7 separate regions of the Homo sapiens genome follow, and all the other regions are linked to region 1. The links come from fine-mapping of genetic effects on gene expression. A gene starts in region 1. Each other region holds a variant in brackets. All regions are shown on one strand. Distances are between the middles of the regions.

Evidence for each region.
Region 2: its variant is fine-mapped to the expression of FGGY in pancreas (GTEx, PIP above 0.99).
Region 3: its variant is fine-mapped to the expression of FGGY in whole blood (TOPMed, PIP above 0.99).
Region 4: its variant is fine-mapped to the expression of FGGY in stomach (GTEx, PIP above 0.99).
Region 5: its variant is fine-mapped to the expression of FGGY in pancreas (GTEx, PIP above 0.99).
Region 6: its variant is fine-mapped to the expression of FGGY in whole blood (TOPMed, PIP above 0.99). The same link has a PIP of 0.9 or more in esophagus muscle.
Region 7: its variant is fine-mapped to the expression of FGGY in whole blood (TOPMed, PIP above 0.99).

The regions. Positions count from the first base shown.
Region 1 is chr1:59,294,033-59,298,733 of GRCh38, forward strand. It overlaps FGGY (FGGY carbohydrate kinase domain containing), which reads left to right and starts at 3,062. Exons shown (of 16, transcript NM_018291.5): 1 at 3,062-3,118. FGGY-DT (FGGY divergent transcript) reads right to left here and starts at 2,518. Exons shown (of 2, transcript XR_001738089.2): 1 at 2,337-2,518; 2 at 1-1,732. RefSeq lists silencers at 2,464-3,003, 3,014-3,103 and an enhancer at 4,521-4,701.
Region 2 is chr1:59,391,279-59,395,278 of GRCh38, forward strand. All of the region lies in intron 5 of FGGY (FGGY carbohydrate kinase domain containing), which reads left to right. Among named protein-coding and RNA genes, the nearest start is that of FGGY, 96 kb to the left of the region's middle. The variant G/C (reference allele first, on the strand shown) is at 2,052.
Region 3 is chr1:59,230,621-59,235,321 of GRCh38, forward strand. No RefSeq gene overlaps it. Among named protein-coding and RNA genes, the nearest start is that of FGGY-DT, 64 kb to the right of the region's middle. The variant C/A (reference allele first, on the strand shown) is at 2,604.
Region 4 is chr1:59,603,737-59,607,736 of GRCh38, forward strand. The region is part of intron 8 of FGGY (FGGY carbohydrate kinase domain containing); the gene reads left to right. Among named protein-coding and RNA genes, the nearest start is that of MIR4711, 130 kb to the right of the region's middle. The variant C/G (reference allele first, on the strand shown) is at 1,953.
Region 5 is chr1:59,519,235-59,523,234 of GRCh38, forward strand. The region is part of intron 7 of FGGY (FGGY carbohydrate kinase domain containing); the gene reads left to right. Among named protein-coding and RNA genes, the nearest start is that of MIR4711, 210 kb to the right of the region's middle. The variant C/T (reference allele first, on the strand shown) is at 2,027.
Region 6 is chr1:59,346,015-59,350,014 of GRCh38, forward strand. It overlaps FGGY (FGGY carbohydrate kinase domain containing), which reads left to right. Exons shown (of 16, transcript NM_018291.5): 4 at 233-384. Among named protein-coding and RNA genes, the nearest start is that of FGGY, 51 kb to the left of the region's middle. The variant G/C (reference allele first, on the strand shown) is at 2,407.
Region 7 is chr1:59,636,703-59,640,702 of GRCh38, forward strand. FGGY (FGGY carbohydrate kinase domain containing) reads left to right here. Exons shown (of 16, transcript NM_018291.5): 11 at 1,526-1,673. Among named protein-coding and RNA genes, the nearest start is that of MIR4711, 95 kb to the right of the region's middle. The variant T/C (reference allele first, on the strand shown) is at 1,675.

The sequences.
Region 1 (4,701 bases):
CACATCAGCGGAGGAACACGCGGGCAGCTGGACGTTGAGAGAACACACTTACGCCAGCAGGCCACCAACTGGCAGAATGACATGGAGTTTGGCTGGGGCAGTGGGAGGAGAGCCTGGGCCGCCAAGCGGCCCGACACCAGGGGAAAACCATCTCCCTTTTGGCTCCTCCACCTGCTGAGAGCTACTTTCACTCCATAAAACCTTGCAATCATTCTCCAAGCCCACGTGTGATCCAATTCTTCTGCTACACCAAGGCAAGAACCCCGAGATACAGAAAGCCCTCTGTCCTTGCAATAAGGCAGGGGTTTAATTGAGCTGGCTAACACAAGCCACCCACGGACGGCTAAACTAAAAGAGCACCCTGCTACATGTGCCCACTGGGGCTTTGGCTGTAAACAGTCACCCCTAGACACTGCCGTGGGGTCAGATCTCCACAGCCTACCTGTCTGTATGCTTCCCTAGAGGTTTGTGCAGTGGGGACTGAAGAAGTGAGTCACACCCACATCGCACGCCCTGTGAAGGGGACAAGGGAACTTTTCCCATTTCATTAGGGGTTGGCAAACTAAGGCTCATGGGCCACATTGTCCATTGCCTGCTTGTGTAAGTAAAGTTTTATTGAAACATAGTCATACCTACTCATTTACTATTGTCTATGGCTGCTTTTACATTACAAAGTTGAGTAGTTGCAACAGAGACTGTATTGCTCACAAAGTCTAAAATATTTACTATCGGTCCTTTACAGAAAAAGTGTCACTCCCTGGAATAAATGAATCAAATGGAAGTAAATGGAAAAAAAAAAAAGGATTCATTCATTCGTAATAGGCAGTGTATCATAACTGAAAAAGATAGTGAAAATTGGTTTCAGACAAACCCAGGTAAGAATCTCACCTTCGCCACTTGGCTGGAAAACTCTGAACAAATTATTTTTACTCTTTGGGCCTGTTTCTGCATCTATCACCTTATAAGGTTGCTGTCTGAGAATTCTACTATACAATGTAATGTATCTGTTAGAGTGTAATATATCTGTTATTAGGTTTGACCTCATACAATAGAAACACAAAATAAAAGTGTCTTACACAGGACAGCAGTTTTTTTCTTTCATGTGGAGGTCTGGAGGGCAGTGGGTATTGATTGGTTCAGTGCCTCCTGCATTAGGAATCCACGCTTCTTTCACTTTGTTGCTTTGCTGTGTGTGGGTTTCATTCCTGAGGTCCTTTCATGGTTCAACACGGCTGCTGGAGCAAATAAAAAATCAAATACACAAAAGCCCAGAGAAAGAGCCATCCACAGAGGCCAGGCAACAAATCCACTTATTCAAGTCTAGCCAAGATGAGACCCCCTTGCCACAGTGCATGAAACCAGCATATTCCACTTATTCCATTCTTGGGGTACGTTGAAACAGATCTGGAAGCAATGTCTTCTGTGTATTAAGCATCTAACACTTTACAAAGCATTTTCATATGTCTTACCACATTTGTTCTTCATAATGTTCTGAAAAGGTAAGATGAATACATCTTATTATTCCTATTGAACACTTGATTCACACAGCTGCTAAGTAACAGATTCCAACGAGTCTATAGCTAGGTCTTTGGGTATGTTGCTGGTAATGAAAAGGTGAACAATCATGGTGCAGAAGAAAGAAAATGAGCCAAACCAGGATCCCTGGTAGAGTTGTAGTGCAAAGACTGGGGTTAATTGTGTGGCCTCAGCCTCACTGGGCTGTTCTCCTCACCTGTAAGACCAAGATAAGAGCACTTATTTACTTCGGGGTTGTTGTGAAGATAGCAGACAATCTTAGTGCACCTGCCACTTAAGATCCGTTCAGTGAAATTATTACCTTTCACAGGTGTGTCTTTGGAAAATCACTTCCCTTTCCTGGATCTCAGTTTTCTTTTCTAGGAAAACAACATGTTTGGACTCAGCGACTGCTAAACTGTCTCCCAAACCTCGAACTCCCTCAGCCTGGGATCCTGCCTTTTATGAAAATAGTTCGGATTGGAGCTCAGGTTGGAATTCTCGCTTTAGTTGCTTGCTAGCTGTGTGTCCCAGTAAAAGCTAAAAATTTCGGATTCCCCACATCTGTAGAATAGGGATACATAACATGCAGCTTATTAGAAAGGGAAGGCATGTGAGAATTAAATTAGGTCCGTGTCCAGTACCCACTAAATTGTAAAAACTTCTCAAAGGCAGGGACCCATCTGTTTTGTAGATTTACAGAATGTCATACGTTGAAGTACGGGGGTTCGCCACGGGATTAGAAAATTTCTGTAGAGTAAGGAACAAGACACAAGGTAAGCATTCAAGAATTGTAACCATGCAATATTCTTATTTCTTACAGTCGCCTACAACAGTCCTGGTGTTTAGTAAACGGTCTGACACACACACCCATCAGGGGCTGCGGAGAGTCCGCCTGGGTAAGCTCCGCAAGGTGAGTCCCCAGAGCCGGGAACTCGCAGCCTGAGCAGACGCAGCGTAGCCGATCTTGGGTCCGCGCTCCTCCCGCCTTGCCCAGCCCTGCCCGCGGTTGGCTAGGCCCCAGGGAACGCTGCAGCCGCGGGGTGGGCAGGCGACGGCCAATCCCACGCCCGGTTCAAAGGGCCAATCAGGCCGCGCTTTACAGGGGCCGCGCTTTACAGGGGCCGCGCTTTACAGGGGCCGCGCTTTACAGGGGCCGCGCTTTACAGGGGCCGCGCTTTACAGGGGCCGCGCTTTACAGGGGCCGCGCTTTACAGGGGCCGCGCCGGCGGGGGCGGGATCGCGCGCAAGGCGGGGCTGTAGCCGCCCCGGGACCGCCCTGCTCAGGCGCCGTGGGGTTCGGCGCGGCTACGTGCAGAATCCGTCTAGCTAAAATGTAATTTCAGATTGGACAAGTACTGTAAGTGACCCTCCTCTCAGTCCCACGTGGGCGCTGGGGGCTTTTGCTGGTGCGCAGGCTCTTAGCGCGCACGCCCAGAAAGAGGCTTCTCCAACCCGGCCCGGCCCTTCCTTCCCCTTTCCCGCAGTCGTTGCCTCCTCCTCCCCTGCCTCCTCCTCCCCTTCCTCCTCCTGGCCGCTTAGTCTCACACCCGCCGGGCCGTTGTTCCCGAGACGTTGTTGAGTCCCCTGTGTCCTCTTCTGGGTGAGGCGTCCGGCCACTTAAGGGAAGGGAAGGGAAGGGTCGGCCTTGACTGCATCCCCAAGGCTGCCTATTAGGTGTCTGGAACCCGTGCTGCTTCCTCTCCGATCAGTGCCCACTTATCTGTATTCAGTACTCTTTCTCTCCTCCCCTTACCCTTGTAGGACATTTTCCTGGCATTTGAGGAGCCTTTAATTCACGTCTGGCTACCGAAGGCATTTTTAGGCTAGTGTTGCTTGTAGATTTAAACGCTTCCAGCACTTGTGATAATGTTTGAGGCACAGCTGAGTTTAGATGAGATAATGCTGTTTGGTTACAGTTATCCTGAGTAGAAAGGCCTAGGGATATCTTTTCATTTTTAGCCGTTTCCTTTTTATTTAAAGATTGACAAGGGGCCGGGCGCGGTGGCTCACGCCTGTAATCCCAGCACTTTGGGAGGCCAAGGCGGGTGGATCACGAGGTCAGGAGATCGAGACCATCCAGGCTAACACGGTGAAACCCCCGTCTCTACTAAAAATACAAAAAATTAGCCGGGCGTGGTGGCGGGCGCCTGCAGTCCCAGCTTCTCGGGAGGCTGAGGCAGGAGAATAGCGTGAACCCAGGAGGCGGAGCTTGCAGTGAGCTGAGATCGTGCCACTGCACTCCAGCCTGGGGGACAGAGCGTCTCAGAAAAAAAAAAAAAAAATTGACAAGGTGCAAAATGGTGAATTTCCCTCATCATGGGCTGTTTTCCACTAAAGCACTTCTGTGTCTTAACACAAATTTCTTCCCCGAAGAGTCAGTCATGACATGACCAAAGTCTGAAAAGCAGTTAATCCTTAGGTTAAATTTTAAAGTATGAGACCAGGAGGGGTGAGGTGCTTATTCTTTTGACTTGTAAATCAGAATGAAAGAAGGGAAAGTCTTTTATTTTGTGGCTGTTATTTAAATGGTAGAGTTTTGCTTTGTATAGTTTTTGCTTGCTTTTCCTCTTTTTTTTCTATGATCCACCACGTGTATGTCCTGATTTTTTTCCTTTTTAACTTGCTTGCTGGATTTTCCAGCCAGATGACTGCCGCTTGGTCTTCTGGGAGTCTCCTGTTAATGGGGCCCTCATGCTTGGCTCTTGACCTGATGGCCACTGGCCTGGCTCTTGGAGGACCTCCTAGTGGGAGGCCCAGAGCACTGTTATTAAGGATGATTGGGGGAACAGATCAGAGGGGGTCAGCTGGGCCTGGAGATCAATTTTGAGGGGGAGGGAGGTTGGGAGCCTGCCTGGCTGGATTTGGAAGTCAAAACATGTGTGCTGGGAGAAGGGCATAACCCCAGAGGGTGGAGAGCCATGTCTTTCTGGATAAAATTAATAAGTTTACTGGGAGGAGGCTGGGCCTTCCAGGCTGTGTTAGTTTTTGTTGTGGGCCTTGGCTTTTCCTGGAATTTGGTTCCCTTTCCCTAACCTTTCACTTATTAGTTTAAATAGTTCCCTTTACCTAACCTTTCACTTATTGATTTAAATAGTTTAAATCACAGTCAATTACCAGCTGGTTTTTAAAATAATTTGAGGTAATGAATCTTGCCCTTAATCTCCTAGCCAGAGTGGAACCCCC
Region 2 (4,000 bases), 97 kb after region 1:
AGTTCAGAGGCTTAAAGTCCAGGGAGGGCGAGAGAGGATGAAGCATGCTGGGTCAGTCGGGCTGGAGGCAGTGGGGGAGTCGGAGGGAGTAGGAGGAAGTAGGAGGTGCTAACATCATGAGAAGCATGAGTTAAGGCACAGGTTCTCAGGGACTGTGCCTTGCACTTGTACTCACTTGTTACATCACTGACTGTCCCTCTCTGCTACATTGAGGCAAAGTCTGAGGAAGGTTGAGGTTGCTTCTTTCTCTTTTCATTAGTAAAGCAAATCTGGATAGAAAAGGGTGAGAAGCCCCATCTTTGTCCTTTGGAGGAAAGGGTAAAACTGTGTGACCTCGACGATTATGATGTGCACTCTTCACTGAGAACCACTAGTCTGAATCTGTTCCATTTCTATAAAGCTTTTTCCCCAGTTCTCTGCTGTGTACGTCTAGATGTGGATTTTATGTGGCTGAAAGATGATCTCTAGCATGACTGTCATTTTCCAACTGAGCAGCAGTATAGCTTTTCCTTTACTGAACAATTTTCTCTGAGACCTTGAATCACTTTTGGAATTTAATTTCATTTGCTTTTTCAATATGATAAAGTAGAACTCTCTCTGAATTTGATTCCTCACTTACAAATAGATATGATACTATATTCTCTGTTGAAAATGTTTTGGAACTGTGAAGATGCTAGAGAGTTAGATCTCGTGTTTCAGGGAACAGAACTGAAACTCAGAAGGGTTTCATTCTGAGGGTGAAGCCAGTGTGTGGAATAAGAGTTAAATTTTAAGGGGTACATTCCTGGATCATGCCTTGTTCAGGAGTCTTTTTCCTGACCCAAGAAGGCCTCCCTCAGGATACAGTGGGCATCTCAGTCTTTGTGAACTCTTAAATTCATTTCTTACCCAGGGTGGCTAACTCTGTCAGTGGACTATTTTGTGAACTTCATACTTTCGGAATATGTTATACTTATGTGATTCTTGGTAGTCTCAAGAACCTTGGTAGAGGTTCAAATCAGTCAATCTGGTTAAAGGTATCAGTATTCAGTCTTGGAATCAAGTGGCACTAGAGCTCTTAAGGCTTGGCGGTTTTCAGGACCTACATCACAAGATACAGAAGTGGTGTGGCTTGGAGCTCGTAAGACTCGTGTCTGGTCCAACCAGGTAACTTGGGGCCCCTGGCACCCATATCAGACTTTTCTCATCTGCAAAATGTGCTGCTTGGAGTGGGTGATTTATTTAGTACTTCCCAGGCCCAAAGTTCTGAGTCTGTAAGATGTAGTGGGGTTGACCAGCATCTCCTTTTGGATTCTCCTTTAAAACTCATTCCTTTGAAAGGAGATTGCTAAAGTCAAACCTTAGAATCCAACCCTTTGGGCTATGATTTAATGTTAAAATGCTGTACCCTTTCCTTTCCTCCTTTTTCTCCTTTACTACTTCTATTTTGTTTCTTTTTCGAAAAAATATACCTTCTTTTAAAATTTTTCTTCATTTTTCCTTCTTCTCTGTAAATTATCAAGGGCCTTTGAAGAGAATTCTTACATGTTATTAAGAAATTGCAGTCAGGGAGCCCTCTGTTCCCAGATCATTTAGAAGATTGCTTTTCCTTTTGTTAAATACAAAAAATTGTCAACCTGTATTGTTAAAATGTGCCAAAAACTGCATTCACCAATAAAAAATGTCAGCTCTCATTATTGCCCAGATATTATTCTTTTCAAAAGCGGAGCACTCTTGCCAGGCTTTCTAAACAATCTTCAGCTCATTCATCTTCCTGGTTTTGTTACATTTTGAACCTCTCTGGGTCTATATAAGGTGGCAGCCTGTCTTTTAAAAATTAATGGATTCCAAATGCCATTCAAACCTATTTCCGCCCTTAACCTCCTCCTCTTCTCCCCAACCCTGCCTGTTAGGAGTCTTATGTTCTGTATAAATATTGAGCTGGAGATAGTTTCTAAAGAGGTGTTTGGACCTTTAATTAACATTGACAGCCTGTCTGCTTAGGATTTTGCTCTGCTGTCTCCATGGAAAAGTCAGGTAGGTCAGTATGTGGGGGAGGGACCTCTGCAGTG[G/C]ATGTGTTCCTGGCGGCTGGCCCTAGAGACACTGCACTCTGAGCCAACCGTGAAGTCATTTTGAATTTAAGGAGTCTTGCTAATCCAAGGCAATGTGTCTTAATTTGACAAAGTAAAGGCTGCCCGATAAGCAAGCCTCACTACAAGTTCTGTGAAACAGGGGGTGTTTGTAAGTTTAGATTGTGCTAGAGAAATGTGGTGATGTGGAAGAACGGGCTCATTTTCTCCTGTTTACTCCCTTTCCCACCCCATCCCCCTCCTCTCTCCCTTCTCTCTTACTTACTTTGGCCCAAATCAGCCCTGCAGTCTGGCCTCTGCAGTGGCTTGATGTGAAATTTGAGAAACATATGTAGTTTTCTATTTCAGGAAAATGATCTCAGGGATTGAATGTGTTTTTTTGTTGGCTGTTAAGCTCTGATCTTGCCCAGTGTGGTTTTTTGATGATGGGAAAGAGGCTTCGAAGTGCTTTTTATCAGAATTTCATGTAATAAAACTTAAGGTTTGGTTTCTTTATTTTGGCCCCCAACCCCCTCCCAGGCTCAGGACACAATGTCGTCTATTCTGTCAGAAGTGGGAAGAAGTACACATTGTTCATATTACAATCACTTCTTTGCTGCTTGCACACACATATATAAGAATGGCCACTGTGTCTATCCTTCACAAAAGCTATTTTAAATGTAGTTCAGTGGAGGACCAAAGGTCTGCGTAGTGTCTCTTACAAAGGAAAAGGGATCTGTTGGGGGAAAAGTCTGCCTTTGTTTTGCCTTGGAAGGGCCAGTATTTTTCTTTGTTCTAGAGGTGAGTGCCAATAATGGGCCTAGTGCCCTATCAAGCAAACTTCATTAATCCAGCCCTGCAAAGGGTACACTGATCAGATAAAAGGGACCTACATCCTCAAAGCTCAAGGTATTTGTTTTTAAACTTTTTTCTTACTGTAAATAAATATCACTATTGTACTTAATCTCATATTCATAATTGTATTCCTTTTCTTAAAGAGCCTTTACATAAAAGCTTCAGGCCCTACAAAATCCGAGAGCATCCTTCATGGAGGAAGGATAGTAGACTCGAGGGTGAGTGGTTGAACTTTGGCTCTGGTGTAAAATGCCCACCCTGGGACTTATTGTGTGACCTTGAGCACGTTACATACCATTTCTGCACTTCATTGTCTTATTTATATTTCATGGGCTTGTTGCGGGATTGAACAGGTTCAAGTGTATAAAGCTCATAGTACAACCTGCTAAGGACTCAACATTAGCTATTCCTGCTGCTGTTTTTATTATTTGTTGCTGGCGTATAAGACCTAGGCAAATGGAGCTAAATACTATTGTCTACCATTAAAATATTCACCTTCTGGAGGGAATAGTGCAAGGGTAACTTCAGATTTGCATTGAAAAACCCATGGACTATCACTTTACATATTTATTTCCTTACCATCTTCAACCCTTATCCAGACAGCTCCAAATGCACATTATTCAGAAAATTGGTGATATTTTCACAGCACTGAGACTAAGCTCATCTCCTGCTGGTCCTTATCACTCACCAGCCTTTCAGCCACATCAGACATCTCCTCAATCTCTGGGCAAACCAGGCCTTTTCATGTCTTCTTGACTTTGCACGTACTGTTTCCTCCCCGCAGAGTATCATTTGCCCTTTTTTCTGCTTGTCAACTGCTATTCACCCTTCGAGACCCAACTTAAATATTATTTGTGAATTTTGGGCAGTTACACAGACTCTTTTGGGCAGTTACACACTACTGTTTCATTTTTCCTATAGTTCTTCAAGAACTTCTCTCATTGTAGTGTAATTATTTCTTGACATACATTTTTCTTCTAACAGCCTAGGAGGTCTTTGGATGAAGATACTACAGTCTATTCACTTTTATAACCCCGGTACAGAGTGCATGACACGTGTTAGGTGTTGAGAAATCTGAGAAATCGACTGGGAAGAGT
Region 3 (4,701 bases), 63 kb before region 1:
ACTACATTAACCTAGATGTTTTCACCCCAAGTCTCCTTCCCAATCAAGGGCCTGACCTTGGTGTAGCCAGCTTACTGTGGTTGAGAATCCAGTCTCCTCTAGAGCTCTGCTACCTTTATAGTTAAGTCCCAGGCCTGAGCCTCAGTTTTTTTCATCCTCTGGCTGCAGTGAGTGTTGCTTCATATGCTGCCAAGAAGGACTTCTGACTGCCACATTTTGTCATACACTGGTGATTAATCACCCCCAGCCTTCATTATGCATTTTTCCAATGCATTAATTACACACATCCGATTCCATTGTCCTTATAATTACTCTTTCACCCAAACCTGTTAAATGCCTGAGATATTGCAACGACTATTGCATTCCCTTCCACTGGTATCCTACCCTTTTCACCACTAATTAACAATTGCACCACTGGAGCATGCCAAGGCTATCAGGGCCTCACATACCATCAGTGATAGGATCCTCAATGCCACCCAGGATGCCCACTCAGGGTTATTCCCATTGACAGAAGGGGTCGGGTCTTTAAAAACCTGCATCAACAGTCATTGGATGTGAACTGCCCCTGGAAAGTAGGGACAAAACTTGATTGAGACAGTTCCATCAGTTGAGGGCAGTTCCAGCGAAGGGGTGCAGCTTCCAGAAGCTGAGGGAATAAATGCCTTGGTCCTGATTAGGCCAAACAACACATTAGCTATAATCCCTTGAAACTATAGGAACATGCTCACCACCACCATCCAAACTGCAAGTGTCTGTTCCGAGGTTATCCTGCCAATAAGCCTTCTGCTCGGCATTTTCTGTTCCCCTTACTCAGCTTCATTTTTCTCCCCAGCACTTACCTCCATGCGAAACTCGTGTTTACTATTTATCTCCTACCATTAGATTGTACACTCCAGGCTTATGGTACCATACCACCTAGGGGAGGGCTTGGCACAAGGTAGGTCCTCAACAAACAAAGGAAACCAAATATCTGTTATGTACCTACTACATGCACCTCACTGGAATTGCTGTGAGGATTAAAATAAATCTCACATGTGAAGGTCTACACATAGACACTCAATATAAATATATATATATGCAAATGTAAGTAAAGAGACATTTGTGCATATACACTACAAGTAGCATTGGAATAAAGAAAAGGACTTTTCTTTGCAGAAAAAAATACTGAAATTTGAGCAACTCAGCATCAGTGAACAGAGGCCAGAAGAAATGGCTTGCACCTGTAATTTCAATACTTTGGGAAGGCAACACAAGAGGATTGCTTGAGGCCAGGAGTTTGAGACCTGCCTGGCAACACAGGGAGACCCCGTCTTTACAAACAATGTAAAAATTAGCCAGGCATGGTGATGTGCACCTGTAGGCCTAGCTACTCAGAAGATTGAGGCAGGTGGATTGCTTGAGGCCCAGGAGTTTGAGGCTGCCACTGCACTCCAGCCTGGGCAATGGAGTCTGTCTCTCAAAAAATAAGACTCTGACTCTCAAAAAAATAGTAAAAAAAATAATAAAAACAAAAAATAATCAGCATCAGTGAAAAGAGACTGAACTTCTTGCCCAGAGATTAAGTGCAGGCCTTGACTCTCTGTAAGGTAGGAAGATTTAGGACTAGCTTTTATTTCTTCCAGCACCAGCATTTAATTGCTGACTTAACAGGGGCTCAGGCCTATAAAAGATTCACCTTGTTTCTCTGAATGTATACATTATTTACCGTAGGGTCTATAAAATATTTACCCATTTTCTCAGCCGGCTGCACTCTGCTCAGCCTTGACTACCACACTGCTGCCTGAAGTTGATCAAATAGACGGCTGGCACCTCTCCAGAAACAGACCGAGCAAGCAACTAGAAAGGGACCATATTTTATGCATTTGTCAGAGCACATAGCAATCAAGGGTGCTGAAAGGCTTTCTGAAAGTACTGGGGAGCAGCGGGGGAGGGTGCTTAATCCTGTCCCACCTCACCCACCACCTCTACAACGGGACTGCCTCTGCCACATCCAGTACATTCATCTATTCAGAATGCACTTACAGAGCACCTATTGTGTTCTATAGATCTTGGGCAGATGGTTAGGAATAATGAAAATCTATATCCCCTTGATGGAGGAAACAAAAACGATGATAAATTATCAGGATGAGAAGAGCACCCAGGTATTGAGCTCTCTCTCCATGTATCTTGTGTAAAACACACGGCCTTGTGAGCCAGATTTTTGGTTGAAATTCTTTCTAACTATCACTCATGAGTGTATATCCTTGGGCAAGTTCTCCAACCTCTTTTTGGCCCAGTTTCCTCAGGATATTAATAGTCCCAATTTCAGGGGATTACTGTGGGGATTACATGGATGTAGAGCACTGAGTATATGGTGCCTGGCATGCAGAAAGCACTCAGTAGAAGTTAGAGATGAGGAGGAAGGGGAGGAAAATCCTTAGGACAGTCCCATGTGGTAGATGTATTGTGCACCCCCTTTTACAGATGAGAAACTGAGATTTAGAAAATTAAACACTTTGCCAAAATTCACTTATATGTGGTAAAAATCAAAATTCAAGCTCACATCTGCCTAATTACAAAGACTGTACTTGTATCCACTGTTCACATACACATACACAAGAACA[C/A]ATACACACACTGATATGGTTTGGCTGTGTTCCCACCCAAATCTCATCTTGAACTGTAGCTCCCATAACTCCCATGTGTTGTGGGAGGGACCCGGTGGAAGACAACTGAATCATGGGGGCAGTATCCTCCACACTGTTCTCGTGGTAGAGAATAAGTCTCATGAGATCTGATGGTTTTATAGGGAGAAAACCCTTTCGCTTGGCTCTCATTTTCTCTCTTGCCTGCTGCCATGTAACACATGCCTTTTGCCTTCTGCCATGGTTGTGAGGCCTCCCCAGCTATGTGGAACTGTGAGTCCATTAAACCTCTTTTTCTTTATAAATTATCCAGCCTTGGATATGTCTTTATCAGCAGCTTGAAAACAGACTAAGACACACACATATATGAAAATGTGGCATAGCCATCATGTGTACCATGGTTTGAGTGACACTCCCAAGCCCCAATGACATTAGATTTTCTTATTTGCCCTTACAGAAACCCTTTCAATGTCGCCATCATGATTATAATAATTTATTAATTTGATTATTATTTGCTGATGTCTGAGTCCCTCCCTACACCATATGTGGGCAGGGACTATGTATTCCCAGTTCCTGAGTGAATGTTTTACATGTATTGTAATTTATCTTTTGCAACAATGCCCATATATAAAAAATATTTTTCTCCCATTCTTTACTAACAAAACTGAGGCTCAGATAAATGAAATAACTCATCCAGTAACAGCTAAAAAACGGGAGAATTCAGATTTTAACCCAGATCAGTCTGATTCTGAAGCCCATGCCCTTTCCATTGGACCTCATTGTCTCCCTGAGAAAAGAACAAGCCCAGAGGCAAGGATAGAAGAACAAATTCCTATAAATTAAGGGCCACAATGTCAGACATTATGTGAGATTCTTGGTCAACACTGTGTCTTTTACTCCTCACCACAAATTTGTTTTCAAAATAAGGTTTCTTTGCTAAAACAAGGTTCTTGCAAACTCAGGTGCAAGCTCTGCTGGAATGAGCTGGTAAAAAGCAAAAAGAGGCTGTCTCCAAGCATGAAGGACATCAGGGAAAGCAACAAGGAATCAAAGATCTTTAATATGTCTATTCTCTTCAATAATGGTGTGCAAAGAGTACAGCCAGCTCAGGTGGGGATCAGGTGAATGCCAATGTCAAAAGCCCAGTCCACGGTGAAGGAGTGTAAGGGAGATTGGGAATGAAGAAGGATGTTTTGACCCGACCACTTTGACTCTGACTCACGTCATACTTCTTCCTTGCTGTAGTAATGCTCTCTATCCTTTGCTTTAAAAAACCACAGATGCTACTTCTCAGTCTTATGTTCAATGACTTTTGGATCCTTAATGAACACTACTGGTAGAAATACTTGATGCAAAATATAATGGATGAAAATCACATATAGTAGAATGTTATTGACCACCAATTAACAAAAATATCAACTCTTCCTAAACAAGAATAGAATTTGAAACAGAATTTTATAGAATTAATGTTCACAAAAGAAAACCTGAAGTGACAGAAGCTATACTCAGTTCATCATGTAAAAAGTACTGATTAATTCATAAAATATTTCTTTCACAATTTATAAAGAAATATTTTATTATAATAAAATTAAAATGGGAAAAATCAGAAATGGCGAGCTGTGCTGTACAGAAATTCAATCAAAAATACAAACTGAATCAATCATATTTGCTCCAGAAAGTATTTGATTCATCAATGTGAATATAATTTTCATGGAATAATTGTCTTATGAAGTCAGAGACAATCTTGGAGCCAAAACTAAGGTCTCCAGACGTGTTATTTATCTTACCCAGGGTCTTGTACTGTGCAGGGAGCTTTGCTTATGTTATCGCTAATCCTTACAACAATACTTTGTTGTTGGTTTACAGTCTCCCAATTTGTAGATGAGTAAAGTGAAATCCAGAAAGGCTAAGTAATCTGTCTAAGGTCATACATGATTTAATACTACAGCCAGGATTATTTGTTAATCAAAACAGAATACTCTTCGCATGAAGTGATGGTCATTTGCGTCTTCCTTCCTAGAGTTCAGGACATTTTGCAAGGGGTTGGGGAAGATGTTGAGACAGGCATGGCTGTGCCTCT
Region 4 (4,000 bases), 310 kb after region 1:
TTTTAGAAATGAAGATTCCCTAACCTACTTGTCATCAAGGCCAGAAGGTTATGTTCAGTTTGAGTAAGTCTGTGTTGGCTCTAATGGCCCTTGCTTTCTGCTCTTCAAAACAGATGAAAGACTCAAAGAAGTAATGGTAGCCTAAAATTAAGACTATAATTTGGCAGAGACAAATATAGAACCTGATGCCTGACTGCTTTCAGTTTTTGTAACACTGGGCATGTTATTTAACTCTCTGCCTCAGTCTACATATCTGTACAATAGGAATAATAACAGAATTTTTAAGTGATTTAATACCTGTAATATGCTTAGAATCAGGCCTTTACTAAGTACACAGTAAGTCTCAACTATTGTTGTTGTTGCCAACAGTGCCGTTATTACTGGGAAGTCAGTGTCCTGCATGGACACCTGTCATCAATGTAGTATGATGAGCTCCCCTTCTTTAGGGTCATGGAGCAGTCTCCAGGCCAAGACAGCCATCAGCATGGAAGGGGCTTTCACAAAAAGATTTTTAAATATTTAGGTTTGTTGCAAAAGATTAAACAACACATAAGTACACAAGTGTACATTCTTTCTCTCTCTCTCAAAACAAACTAGGAATTCCTAGATTCTTCTAAGAACACAGGGTTTGAGAGTGACTAGAAGTACTCTTTGTTTCCTTGCTTTACACAGGATGTCTGAGGAGAAGCATGTGCTATTCCAGATGAGTGGGCACAAACAGAGGTCAACTCAAAACTTTCTCCCTGGACAGAGCCAAGCAAAACCATTCTCTGACATTTCTGAGCAGCAAAGCAGCAAAGCCACAATCTTCTAATGAAGTCTTGCTGCAGCTGATGCAGTAACATCCCCAAATTGTGGGACAGGGGATGGGGAGAAGGGAGGTGAAGTGTATCCTTCCTAAGCAATTTATGCATACAAGTAAAGAGCATTATCATAGAGTTTGAGGTCAACATCTGCCTCAGTTGAAATCCCATCGTGGTCATCCATGTACTAACCATAGACAACTTACACAACCTCTTGGGGACTAATCTGTCAAATGGGGCCAAGAGTTCTGGAGGCAAGGGGCTGCAAGACACAGAAAGAGATGACTTGGCTTTGGCTCTACCTGTGCAAACCCTGGGTCCTAAGTGGTAATGAATATGGACTGCCTCATTCATCTCAAAGAAGCTCTGGGACTTAGGAAAGCAATTTCTAGAATTGGCACGTGATAAAATTTTCACTGGGCAAAGAAAGGCAGAGTGGTGAAAATAAGTACCAGTTAGTATGCTCTCCTTGTGGCTGGAACATTCACCATAGCTCACTCGTGCATTCTTTCTCTCTCATACACACAACACTCACACTCACCCACCTGAATAATTTCCATGCATGTTTTAAATCTTAATTCATGTACCATTTCCTTGGAGAAGCATTCCCTGTCACCTAGACTGAATTAGGTACCTCCCTTGTGTGCTCTCTTACTACCTTTTGGCTTTCCCTCATTTACTTCTCACAGTTGGTAATTACATATTTGTGTAATGATCTGATTAATATTTTTCTTAAGGTAGCCAGTTGCCCCAGTTTGGCTGAAACTGAGGGGTTTTCCAGAAGGCAAGACTTTCAGCGCTGAAACTGGGAAAGTCCTGGCCAAACCTGCGTAATTGTTCACTCTGGTCTGCTTCCCTCTCAAGATCGGATGCTCTTTGAGTACAGGCACTATGCTCTTGTTCACCATTTATCTCTGTGCCTGGCACAGACCTGGACTGGGAACTCAGGAAACATCTGTTAACCAGTAAAGAAGTAAATGTATATGTTAATCTAAGCTGAACTTACTTTTCTTATGAAAGCCTATCTTTTTTCTCCCTGAAATTATTCTATTTTGATGTTAAAATATCCCTTTTGAAAAACTGTCCTTATTTGACAAAATTTAAAGTTCACAATGTTATGCTGTTTTTGTTTTTTGCCTTCCTTCCCCC[C/G]CTTCCCATTTTGTGGTTGGAAATCCTACTGATTTGAGGAATCACTTGTTTAGTAAAGAGAGAACCGGGGTAGCTGAGGTCAAGACAAATAAGGTCTGTCCCCATGCTAAAATGCTAGTAATCACTTCTGTATCCTCTGGGCCTAGCACATTACCAAGCACATAGTAAGGGCTGAGTAAATATTTGTGAAATATATAAATGAATAGATTTTCTGCCCAGCCTCAAGACCTGCTGGAATACAACTTGTATGCCTAACTCCCTTTTCTTCCCTACCCTCTAGCTAAACATTTCTGTGACCATAAATGTGACTTCAGCATTCCTTACTGCTGAATAGATGAGAAACATGTACCACTGCAGATGAATGAACACATGGTCTATCCCCACCCGTTCTAGTTCATCTCTTTAAATGCTTTCCTTACTGTTGAAGGGACTGCTATGGTCTGTTAAAAAATAATAATAATAATAAAATAAAAAATTTTAAAAAAATGGCACTATCTTGATTACTGAGAGCACCTCTCTTACCCACATGGCTTTGTTCAAGCTCCTCCCTCTACTTGGAACACCTGTTTCACTTTAGCAAAATCCTACTAGTCTTTTCAAACTTAGCTTATGTCCCTTTCTCTAAGAAGCCACCTCTGTACCCTTCCACTTGTCAAAAGTAAAATGAGAACAAGTTAGGGAAAAATTTGAAAGTTTTCTATCTTACAAAAAGTACCAATTGCCATCAGCAAGACTTCAAGTGGTAAGAAGCTCACCTTACGGCAGTTACAGTGCAGTTTATGAAGCATTAAGGAGAAAGTATTTTGACCTTTTTAGTCATTGGCTGTTATGTATTAACATTTTTTTTTCAGGGGAAACAGGACTGTTTAAACTGATTTGTCTATAGTTGATTGATTTAATTTTCCTGAATCATGCTGACAAGGACCTAAAGCTTATGTTTTAATTTCATCAAATCATGCTGACAGGGAGATAAAGCTTATGTTTTATGCTTTGTTTATAATGAGAGCTAGCAACTCAGGGAAATCAGAATGACTTAAGTTTTACCACTTGACTCTGGGCAGTTGGCCTTGGGGTATATATCTAAATGGCGGCCTCTATCTTTGTATAATCTTTAGTACATTCCTCACCTCCTGTGCCCATCCACAATATTTTGTATTTTGTCTTTACCATCTCATGAACCACACTATATTCTATTTGTCTATTTTTTTGTATAGCTCCTCCACTAGATGGGAGCTTCTTGAAAGTAAGAACTCTGATTCATCTTTGTGTCCCCAGCACCCAATAGGGGGACAGGATTGCTATTAGGTAGCAGTACATATTTGTAAAAGGAAAGAAATCTATCAGTTATTATAGTCCCCCAAATGCTAAGTTACAGACAAATAGAAAACCTTAGTGACAAACAACAGTAGACATTTATTTTTGCTCACAAGTTTGTTGGTTGGCTAGGTGAGTCTGATGATCTGGGCTAGTCAATGCTGGTCACCTACAAATATTTGCTGATGTTACCTGGGTTCTTTCATATATGTGGGACATCACCTGAGACAACTGAACAGACTCAGCTCTGTTGCACATCTCCTGTCACCCAGCAGCCTTGTAGGGCATGGTCTTGTGGCCAAGTTTGAGGAGCGAAAGACAGAACAGAAGCACACAGCCCTTTTGAGACCTAGGCTTGGAAAACTGACCCAGTGTCACATCTGCCTCATTCTCTTGGCAAAACAAGTCACAAGACTGGCATAGATTGAAGGGGTAGGGAGATAGACCCACATCTCAATGTGAGGAGCTGCAAAGTCTCATTGCAAAGAGTGTTGACACAGGAAGGGTGGAGAATGGGGACCACCTTTGCAATCTCTGCCATAGTGAGGGAGCCAACAGGGAAACACCTTATCAGTTTCTTTCCAAAATGACCATTTTTATTACCTTAACATTTAAATGAATTTATCAGGAAAGTTTCTAAAAAAAGGAGCCATGGCCTTTCTTGGGAGAGAGTGACTTCCCCACCATAAAAGGCATTCAATAAGAAGCTGAATTCCATGGTCATAGAAATATTA
Region 5 (4,000 bases), 220 kb after region 1:
TTGACCCTAAAAATGTGAGCAAGTAACAAATTTTGAAAAAGGAAAGTCTTTAATATTTATTGACGACCCACTTTACTAGTTCATGGGGTTAGACAGTGACTATGAGAGAGAAGTGGACTTCTGGGAATTTGTATTCTAGTAAAGAAAATAGACAAGTAAATAAACAGTTACGGTTACTTGTGCCGTGTATGGAAGGCTTTGGAAAAACATAAAATGGGCCTAAAATTGAGACTTAAACAATTATTAAAGGATTCCTAGAGGGAGTGATGTCCAGTAATCTAATTACGACACTGCTTTCCCTGTTATTGCTTCCTGGTAAAGTGGAATTTATATATTTTTTGCGACTTTTAAACTTCAACTAGGCTTCATTTCTAATAATAAAATAATAACATTGTTAATTAGAACAAATACAACCACCACTCTGACTGGTACTACTATGATGACCATTTCTTACATGTGTCCTATGTGCCAAGTACTCTACCTGATACTGCTCAGACTTTATATCTTGCTCCTCACGATAAGCCTACAAGGTAGAGGTTGTTTCCCCATTCTGCATGAGGGAATTGAAGGCAGAAAGAATAATGTTTCCACAATCACATAACTAATCTCATAGCAAGATTTGAAATTGAGTCTGCCTCCAAGGTTCATATATCTTTTCTCTAGGCCAGTGGTTCTCAACCAGGGGTGATTTGACCCCTCAGGGGACATTTGGCAATGTCTGGGGACAGTTTTGTTTATTGCTTCTGGGGAAAGGGAAATGGCACTGGCCTGTGGTGGGTAGAGGCCAGGGATGCTGCCAAACACCTTACAATGCCCAGGCCAACCCCCTGCAACAAAGAATTATCCAGCTTCAAATGTCAAATGTCAGTAGCACTGAAGGTGAGAAACCCTATTCTCTCCTGGAACACCTCCAGTGATATTATTTCTCTTCATCAATTCAGCTTATTTCTATAGAAGCCAAAAAGCAGCCCACAATAAGGGTTTTGCTGATACATTAGTACTTTGTTGAAATGTGTTTTGTGAAATTGACTCTTCAGTAAAAGTAGTTGTGAGATTAAGAAAATAATAGAAGTGAAGCCTGAGGAGTAGGGAGGACAGGATGGTTTCTAGCTCATCTATTTCAGAGTCAAGCCACACGGGACAACTTGGCCGTCTTTCAGCACATCATGCACATTCCACCTCCTTTCCTTTGTTACTCATCCATCAGCACTCAGTCTAAATGTTACTTTGTGGAAACATCTCCAAATTTAATCCATTCTTAGAAAAGCACCAATCACTCTCTATGCTGTATCTGTGAAATACTTTACAACTATTTCAGTTTTTTCACCAAATCATGTTCACGTTTGTATGCCCATCATCCAGCATGAAATCCACATAGCTGGTCTTCACTAAATCAATGTAATTATTTAATTACTATTATTAGTAATTAAGATAATAAATATAAGAGGGTTTTGAAAAATCCAGAATAAGAATTGGTAAATATAGGTGAGGGAGACTTTAAGAAAATATAGATTCCCATGCCCTACCCTGCTGAGGATGCCTGGAATCTTGTTCTAAGTGTGGAAAATGTCACCTGGTACCCAGAGGAGACAGCCTGGGGGGATGAGTTGGCACTGAGGACACTGGGGTCAGAAGCAGTATTGATGTGTTTCTGCCAAGTAGGCAGATCAGACCAGAGCAGAACCGTGCTGCGCAGGAGCCAGGCCAGGCGCTGGCCAAAAGCTGGGGGCAGGAGGGAGCTTGTCCAAAATGAGAGAGAATATGGATCCAAAGAGGCAGACGGTCTGCAAGAAATTGGGGGTGGGGGGGGATTAGAAATGCAGATAAAGTCATGCCGTGGAATCTGGAAGGAGAAAACCGTGCCAGTCCCTGAGCAGATAGAGCAAGGACAACTCTGGGAGTTCCTGGATGTGAATCACAGAGGGCAGAGGAAGAACGTATTCATGGGATTGCAAGTTTATTGTTTTAAGTTGAGGTTCGGTTTAATGCGACCCACTACTGCCTGAGACCTCGGCAGTTCATGAGC[C/T]GTGGCAACAGCTCATGTGATGGAGGGAGGGGCAGAGAGCATACGTGGGGGGAAGGATAACTGAGTTTCCTGTTCCCAGGCTCCAAGGCTTTCTTGGAGTGCTGTGATTCTCTGGACTGCAGAAGGCTGGCCTTAGCTGAGAGACCAGACTTTGACTCTGTGGAAGAAAACCGAGAGAATCCAGGGCCTGGTGCTATTGCCAGCTCCCCATGTGTCCCCAGTTTTTAAATCTTGTGCCACACGTCAGTGTATATGGCTGTGAACCTGCCATGAAACCATAATATTTTGAGTTTAATACATACACTCCTGTTTGGATAATGAGTAATCATAGGCTTTAGAACTAAAAGGCTGCTCAAAGATTCTGTATACCAAATTCTTCAATTTGCAGATGAGAAAACTGAGGCCCAGACAATGGTGAATCATCCAAAGTTACCCCAGCATATTACTTTCAGAGTCAAATTTAGAATCTGAGTGACCTAGTTCATCAGCCAGGGTCCCCGCCCCATTGTACTACACTGTCTCCAGATTAGGAAAAGGGAATGACTCCTGATTTGTTATTCCATTTTATACCTTATATCCCATTTAATGGCCACAGGCAGCTTCACTGGTGGTTATTAAATAGGTAATTTAGTTTTCCTGAGCCACACTTGAGTAAATCTCTTTGTTTTGTTGTCACAATCTACAAAAAGCTCCAAAGAATCTCCTCCAGAGCTGGAAATAATAAAAACACCTGCTATTCGAGTTCCTTCCAAAGAGCTCAAAGCAGTTATTTTTATTTCACCTACCAATCGTTGAATACCTATGCTGTGCCAAGTGTTTTGCTAGGTACTTGACTATTCACTATTGTGAGCTCACAACCACACTGTGAGCTACAATTATTTTTGGACTTTAACATACAAGGATGAAGGTTTAAGAACCTGCCAAAGGTTACATTTTAATAAATTATAAAGTTGGGTTCCTGGACCCACCGATTGCAGAGCCTATGAGCTCTCCCGTGTTGACCTGGCTAGTGAATCTATTTGTGTGTAGGTATGTTTGTGCCTTTACTTACGTTAGCCCATACTTACACCAATGCATATTTGTATCTATAGTGGAAGATAGAGCTTCTGCTTAATATCCTTCTGGACGTTTGTAGATCTATTTTATGGATGAGAAAGTTGAGGCCCAGGGTGGAGAAGTGACTCTAATAAAGTGTATTTAAAGCAGCACAGGAGTCTGGGTTCCATCAATCATGGGGAATAAGGCCAGGCTTATTAGATCAGGGTAGGAATGGGATGCGTAGCTATTGGGGTTGTGTGGTGGAGAGATAAACAATATTAATGTTGACGTTAATTTTGTTTACTAAATTTGTTAATTAATGCTTACAATCTCAATCTCAAAGATTAATCTTAATCTTTTTGTAGTGACTTGCTGTTTTTAAACTACCCTTGGAATAGGGAAGGTATTTTTACCTCCCACGAATGGTTGGGAAAACTGACCTTCGAGGAGGTGAAGGGATTTGCCTAAGGTTACAGGACCAGGAAGACTGGATCCAAGACTCAAACCCTTATTTGTGTGCCTCTGTCTTCACATCAGCTTTAGTGCAACCCTTGCATCAAACAATGGAAAAGTAGTACCTAGTAAATGGAGCAAGGTGTCTTATTCTGTGCCCAGAGCCTCTCATTTTAAACAAGCTCTGATCATCTCATCTACTACAGAACTGTATCTGGTATTCTGGGGCCATTTTTAAACAGAAGGTTTCACTTATTCTCTCCTGTATTAGTATATGGCCGAGAAAATTAGCTGAGCTGTTATTTTCCTTTGCTGAACTGGGGAACAAAAACAAAAAAACACACAGTAATCCAGCCACTGGTTCTGACACTGCCAAGCACCTGTTAGGAGGACTTCCTACTCCAAGTTCAAAAGGTACGGACTGCTAGAAAAGTGTGTGTTTGGGGGCCCAGAGTCTAAGATTGCACTTGCGTCACTGGCTGC
Region 6 (4,000 bases), 52 kb after region 1:
GTAGACATTTATTCTAAGGTCATGGTCAGAGAACACATGACTGGACGGGAAATTCCAGGCCTGGGGACAGTGCTTTCCTCAGCCTTGCTGGTGTCCTTTCATTTTGCACACTCTTGATACATAAAATTATAGAAAGTACATAGCATTTTGATCTTGGGAATCCATAATTGTTCCCTTGAATTAGAAGGAAGAGAATGTGTGTCCATCTGCATCTCCCTCTCGTTTCTGCTAGGGGATTCCCATCGAAACGTCATCATGTGGCTGGACCATCGAGCAGTCAGTCAAGTTAACAGGATCAATGAGACCAAGCACAGTGTCCTCCAGTACGTCGGGGGGGTGATGTCTGTGGAAATGCAGGCCCCGAAACTTCTGTGGCTGAAAGAGGTGAGTGCATAGGGTCTAAGAGAAGATACCAACAATAGTAGAGGATTCCTGTTACTGTGGACCTGTAGGTACCAGGCACCCTGCTAAAATCGGTTATGTTTGATTTTTCCCAGCAACTAGGAGGAAGGTTGATCCCATTTTATTGATTACAGTGTAGTTAAATCACACCTGTTTTTATGTGCCTAACTCATACTAGGCACTGTGACAAGTATTGTACACATTATCTCTTTGAAGGCCAACGACCCTATGAAGTGTTTGTGTGTGGTGTTTATTTTAGGGTGTCTGTTTTGTAGACAAGAAAACGAATGTTCATAGAGATAAAACAACTCACTCAAAGTGACAAAGTAAATATGTGACAGAACCAGAATTTGAACCTAAGACTGGCTGACTCCAAAATCATTTTTTTTTAATTTTAAAATGTTTCTTTTGTAGAGACTTGGTCTCACTATTTTGGCCAGGCTGATTTCGAACTCCTGGCCTTATGTGATCCTGCAAAAGTGATATGATTATAGGTGTGAACCACTGTGCCCGGCCATCCAAAATCAATTCTTTTTTTTTTTTTTTTTTTTTAAGTATCAATTTCTCTTTTAATCTTAGACGTCGTGGTGGAAGGAAAAATCAGTTAGCAAAGAAGCAATCTCAGAAAAAGTGTATCTTTTTGATGCCTTTATGCCTTTTTTTTCCTCTTTTTTTTTCGGTTATTCTTTATTATTATACTTTAAGTTTTAGGGTACATGTGCACAACGTGCAGGTTAGTTACATATGTATACGTGTGCCATGTTGGTGTGCTGCACCCATTAACTCGTCATTTAACATTAGGTATATCTTCTAATGCTATCCCTCCCCCCTCCCCCCACCCCACAACAGGCCCCGGTGTGTGATGTTCCCCTTCCTGTGTCCATGTGTTCTCATTGTTCTATTCCCACCTATGAGTGAGAACATGTGGTGTTTGGTTTTTTGTCCTTGTGATAGTTTGCTGAGAATGATGGTTTCCAGCTTCATGCATGTCCCTACAAAGGACGTGTGAACTCATCATTTTTTATGGCTGCATATTATTCCATGGTGTATATGTGCCACATTTTCTTAATCCAGTCTATCATTGTTGGACATTTGGGTTGGTTCCAAGTCTTTGCTGTTGTGAATAGTGCCACAATAAACATACATGTGCATGTGTCTTTATAGTAGCATGGTACTGGTACCAAAACAGATATATAGACCAGTGGAACAGAACAGAGCCCTCAGAAATAATGCCACATATCTACAACTATCTGATCTTTGACAAACCTGAGAAAAACAAGAAATGGGGAAAGGATTCCCTATTTAATAAATGGTGCTGGGAAAACTGGCTAGCCATATGGAGAAAACTGAAACTGGATCCCTTCCTTACACCTTATACAAAAATTAATTCAAGATGGATTAAAGACTTAAATGTTAGACCTAAAACCATAAAAACCCTAGAAGAAAACCTAGGCAGTACCATTCAGGACATAGGTATGGGCAAGGACTTCATGTCTAAAACACCAAAAGCAATGGCAACAAAAGCCAAAATTGACAAATGGGATCTCATTAAACTAAAGAGCTTCTGCACAGCAAAAGAAACTACCATCAGAGTGAACAGGCAACCTACAGAATGGGAGAAAATTTTTGCAATCTACTCATCTGACAAAGGGCTAATATCCAGAATCTACAATGAACTCAAACAAATTTACAAGAAAAAAACAACCCCATCAACAACTGGGCAAAGGATGTGAACAAAATCAATTCTTTTAATACCCAGTATTCTATTGGAGTTCAGAGAGGTTAATTACCGTTCCAATGAGAAAGCAGCCGAGGTGGGATTTAAGTCCATATCTTCTGACCAGAGCTTTGCTGTTCTGTACACTTTTAGCCCCAACTTATTAATATTTGGCCTTGTTGACATCTTAGGCTTTCCCTTTCTCATCCCACCTGCACTCGAGTTTCTCATCCTTAAATGATATGGCAATCTCTGGTCAAAGCACTTGCAGGTGGCTCCCATTTCCA[G/C]ATGTTAGGACTTCTTTCTGAAGTGTGGAGAATGGTGATGTCAGCTTAATGGTTCCCATTAGAGATGGATGTGTGAGAAAGTTCAAGTCCTTTGGGAATCTCAAGGACTTGAAAACCTCTAGGTGGTCTGGAGAAGTAGAGAATCCATCTAATGAGCATGACCTGCTGTGATTCATTTACTGGCTCTGAGATTTCAGGTGGGCTGAGTCTTCTATTACTCAGATTGTAAATGGAGATGGGGAGAGCTTAGGTTGCTGAGAGGGTGCCTAAGGATTGCCATCACGGGGCAGGAGAGTGGTAGGAAAGAAGGGCTTCAGCAATCAAAGCAGGCTTGGCTTTTTAGCTATTTTATATATTGAGCTGTTTTGTAAGTTTTAATCTACATAAAGGCTTCTGTGGTTGCTAAGAGTTTGAAAACAGAGTTTCTTAGGAGTCAGGAGTTTTCAAGAATCTAATTCTGACTCTACTGTCAACAATTGTATGCTTTGGTCAAAGCACTTCTTATTTCAGGCCTCACTTTCTTCATGTATAAAGTGGGAGAGTTGTATTAACCAGTTTGAAAACCTGACTCGGGTATATACTGAAACACAAAATTGGAATATAGAACTGTTCTGCGCTGCCCGGTACCCTGCTTTGAGTTGTATAAGCATTAGTTGATTTTAATCCTAATGGTCTGTGCCTGGTAGATAGCACAGGAAACTGATCCTAAGGAGGTTTTCCCAAACAGGTGATAGAGCCAGAATTTAAATCCATGTCTGCTGGGCTCCAAATCTCAGCTTATTCCATCATGTCATGCAGTAGTAAAATCCCTCTGTGAAGCATGGCTCTTGGCGTAGGACCAGGAATGATGGCAGTGGTCTTCTTCAATTTGGCCTAAACTTGTTGCTATATCAACAAGTTTGGATTGGATATATCACCTTTTTTGGCAACACAGAAAGAAAAGTTATACTGAGTTAAGCAAAGAGGATTGGGCGGAGGGTCATTGGTTCAGTGTCAGGGCCTTCTAGAGCACTTGCCATGTGGCCAGCTCCAGCCTATATCCCAGGAGATCTAAATGCATATCTGGCACGAACCTCTCAGGATTCTTACCATCTCGCACTTGAGATAAAACTGCACTAAATAAATCCCATAGGAAATAGTTAAAGTCTAGATTACATGGCAGTGTTTGTGACCCTCTGAGAACATCTTATATTAATTTATTTTAAAAAATCAATTTTCTTTCAGAATTTTCTGAGTAAGCCTCTAGTGTGGGGTGTGTTTTGGTAAGCATGTACAGGAATTCTTGCTGAGAATTCCTTTGGCTTTAACATGATTGCAAAATCAAAATTAAAGAGATTTCTAAAGTCAGTTTTAGCATCTTCTTAAAGCCTGACCAGGAGGGCTATAGTGCTTCTCAGACTTCAATGTGTAAATGAATCACCTGGAGATCTTAGGTTCTGATTCAGTAGCTTTGGGATAGGGACTGAAAATTTGAGATTTTGTATTTCTAACTCAAGTTCACGGGTGATGCTAATATTAGTGGCCTGGGAACTTGTGAAACCACTTTTAATTCCAAAAGCTCTGCTCCCCTACCCTGAAAAGCATCCACTTTTGG
Region 7 (4,000 bases), 340 kb after region 1:
ATGCTCTACTCATTGGTTTGTTTCCCTACACCAAGTACAGGAAACTTTTGGCAACTTCATGGGATCCATGGGATCACTCACCCAATCACAAACTAGAACTAGAAATCACTGAGCCTTCCTTCTAAAACACTTTTAAAATGCAAAGCATAAATAATGCCTTAGGTATCTTAGATATTAACCTCCTTTGGATATTGATTTCCTATACTTTTTTTTCTGCCATTATACAAGCCATGTTTTTAACCTTTAAAGAGACTTCCAAGGACCCCAGTGGGAAGTAGCACAGATGCCAACTACTGCAATATCCACTTTCTTTTGAAATCATTGGTTCAGAACTTTTAGAAAGCAGCATCTTTTAAGAGGGGAAGGTTGACCAGCTTTCATCTTTGTGTCATGTGGTGTGATTTAACCCGGTGAGGTAGGTGTTATTAAACCTATTTTATGAGTGGGAAAATTGGAGGTCAGAGGTTAAGTCACTGGCCCATTTTACCGAGCTAGGAGAGGTAGTATCAAGATTTGAACTGAGTAGTGCTCTCATGCCCATCATCTTCTCTCCACCTCCTCTTCACCTGAACATGTAAAGAATGAAGGAGTTGGTTTGACTCCCTCATTCTACACATGAAGAAACTGAGACTTAAAAAGGAGAAAAAAAACCAGGCGAGGTGGCTCACACCTGTAATCCTAGCACTTTGGGAGGCCGAGATGTGTGGATCACCTGAGGTCAGGGGTTTGAGACCAGCCTGGCTAACATGGTGAAACCCCGTCTCTACTAAAAATACAAAAATTAGCTGGGTGGGGAGGCTGAGGCAGGAGAATCGCTTGAATCTGGGAGGCGGAGGTTGTAGTGAGCCGAGATTGCACCATTGCACTCCCACCTGGGCAACAAGACTGAAACTCCATCTCAAAAAAAGAAAAAGAAAAAACGTACACAATGTCATCTGGTGGGTTTAGGTTGAAAATCAGGTCTCTAACTCCTGATCCTAACTGCATTTATGACATTCAGTCACTTTACTTAGCAAAATCCTATCCTGAGTCTGGGAACTTATAATTTCTCTCCATTTATCAACTCATCATCATTATTACAATTAGGAATACTGATTTTAATAAATTATTGACATATGACCAGTACTGTACAGTTTACAAAATACTGCGCCTTCACATACATAATCTTCTTTGATCTTCACAATAACCCTATGAGGTAAGTTGGACAGGGATTATGATATCTGTTTTTACAGATGAGAAGAGGGTGGTTCAGAAAGTTTGAATAACTTTCTCATGGCCATACATCTACTAAGAGTAAAGCCATTCCTGGATCCAGTCTTCTGACTCCAAACCTTTCTACTAGGATGTGGCACCTTTCTTGGTGATAGTACAGTGTGATTTGAGAGTACAGTGGGCTAGCTTCTCTGAAGCTTTTAGGAGCCTGCTTACTTTCCTGGATCTGGAAGTACAAATGGTTTCTTTCTATAGAATGATTTGCTCCCTGACCCTATCCCCCCTTTAAAAATAAAATTCACTTCTCTTCCAGATGCCAGAGTATATATGCATATTTGAACAGTCACCTGGATCTGATTAAGAAGGCTCAGCCTGTGGGTTTCCTTACTGTTGATTTACATGTTTGGCCAGATTTCCATGGCAACCGGTCTCCCTTAGCAGATCTGACACTAAAGGGCATGG[T/C]AAGTAACAGCTAGTCCTTGCACATGGGTGAAGGCAGGCCAAAGGGCTACAAAGTTTGGAAGAAGCAAAGTGAGGAAAAAGGAAAAGAAAAAAATAAAACAGGCCAACAGCCCTCTGGCTTTGTGCAGATGCATTGCTGTTGCTGCTCCCTGGGATGAGCTGCTGAAAGTTTTCATTGTTTCTGAGCCAACCTTGAAAGCGTTAAAAGCAGCATTTCCTAGTTCAGCTACTGCTGCCTCTTTGTCCTGTGGAGTGGCTAAAAGTCATGCCTATGTAATTTTGGCATTTATATCAGTTTGTAAAGTCAAATTTTCCAGCTGCATCTTTAGGTTGCCCAGTAAATCAGTAGTAAATATTACCACCCATGGTCTTGCTGGCCACAGCCACACATCTGCCTAGGCTCTGAGTCAGGGCTGTTCAGATTCTACACTAATATAGTTAGGATTTCAGATTAAACTTTGGTATAAGTAAATGTAATTTATAACTTATGTTGGAAAATAAATCCTGCTCTTAGTGCCCTTTAGGGTCACTTCCTCTGTGGATATTCTAGGCTCTCCTAGAGGGGCCAGATGAACTTGGTGGGAGAACTCTCAACCACCCCAGTTGAGATATAAAAGTAATAACATCTTAGACACCAGGAGAATCATGTTTGAGGTGTGATGAAGCAGGTTAAAGGTAGAGGAGGGGCCAGGTGAGGCCACAAATAAGAAAATAAGCCATGAATGCAGGAACCAGGAAAATGTCATGAAGCTGAGAAGGTGAGTGTGAGGTACATTAAGGCAGAGTTCAGAATGGAGGCTGTAAACAAGGCAAGGCTTATGCAAAGGAAGCCGCGTAACAGTGGAGCAGGCCTGATGGAGTCAAGAATTCAAGACTCAAACTACTACAATTTTGTGGTTAGTTTTATTGAGATTGTTTTAAATATTTTTATGATGCCAGCAGGAAGACCTGAAATTTATTTTCATTACCTAGTTGACATGATCAACTTCTATTACTAAAAGGGAGTCATGGTGAAAAGAAAAGAAAATTAGACATGACAAAGGTTATGTTGATCTGGAGTCCATGAAGCATGCCTACACAACAAATCATGAGCTTGGTGTCCTTTTTTATAGAGGCAGAAGAATAATGTCCAGAGAGGGCCATGTGGCAACAGACCGCAACTAGAAAGTCATACTTTCAGATAACCAACTCTCTCTGTAAACAGGGGGTAGGGGAAGAACACATTTCATATGGGTACAGAAATAAGTGTCTTAATTAGAGACAAATATCTGAAGCCAAATAGAGCTAGATATTTAAAATGTTGAAGCAGTTAAGAAGCTTGACCAGTGTTTTAAATGACCCCAAAACAAAGCAGTGTTGCATAGTAAAATGGTCATTGCTCTGGAGGTCATTTGTTGCTTTAGATAAAACTGACCTAGGAGCCTTCCCTAGCCAATGTCTGTCATACCCAAATTCAGTACCCAGCATGTCAGGCTTCATGTCTCCCAGTAGCTTTTATCCATTTTTTAAAACCAATCCTGACATCCAAGACCTAAGAATTATCATCAGAAGGATATTCTAATACAGTTGACCCAAATGCAGAATGAAATTCCAAAGAAATCAATGGAGTGTTCTGAAGAATTCTCATATCATGAGAATAAGTATGTATGCACCAAAAGGAACTTCTTACATGGGGACATATGCCCAGTTGTATCTAAAAATCCTGGGTATGTTTACTTTTTTAAAAAGTTGTATGTTTGTTCACATACCTCATATATCACTTGGTAGTTCTTGGCAATGATTCCCTTTATAACTGTCCTTGGGTTAGGCTGCAATGGAACAGTTATCACTCCATGAATTTGCATCACAACACTGGAAGGAGAAGATGACCTAAATAAGATAGAAGGAAAGCAATTCTGAGCTAAACACTTCACCCCAAATCTCCTTCCTTCAGTCCAGTTTTGGAAAACATCAAAATAATGACCCTGAAATTCTTCTGTTATGTTATATCCTTTTGCTGGAAACTACGATGATGCCTATCTCCAGCACTCATTCAGCAAATATTAATTGGGTTCCTATTGTATGCCAGGCACTGCCGTAGATATGAGTAAGATGCAACAATACCTACCTTCATGGAGTATGTTTAAAGTTGGGAGTGGGCGAGTGCTTGAAAAAATGTTAATAGGAACTAGCAGGATAATTCCAATAAAGCAAGATCCATGTACAATTTCTTCTTTTGGCCCCTAAAACGTTTCCCTGGACACAGAGTAAGTGCTCAGTATATGCTTATTTATAATTTATAGGCAACATAGAGATAATAAAGAGGTCATTTGTTGCCTTAGATAAA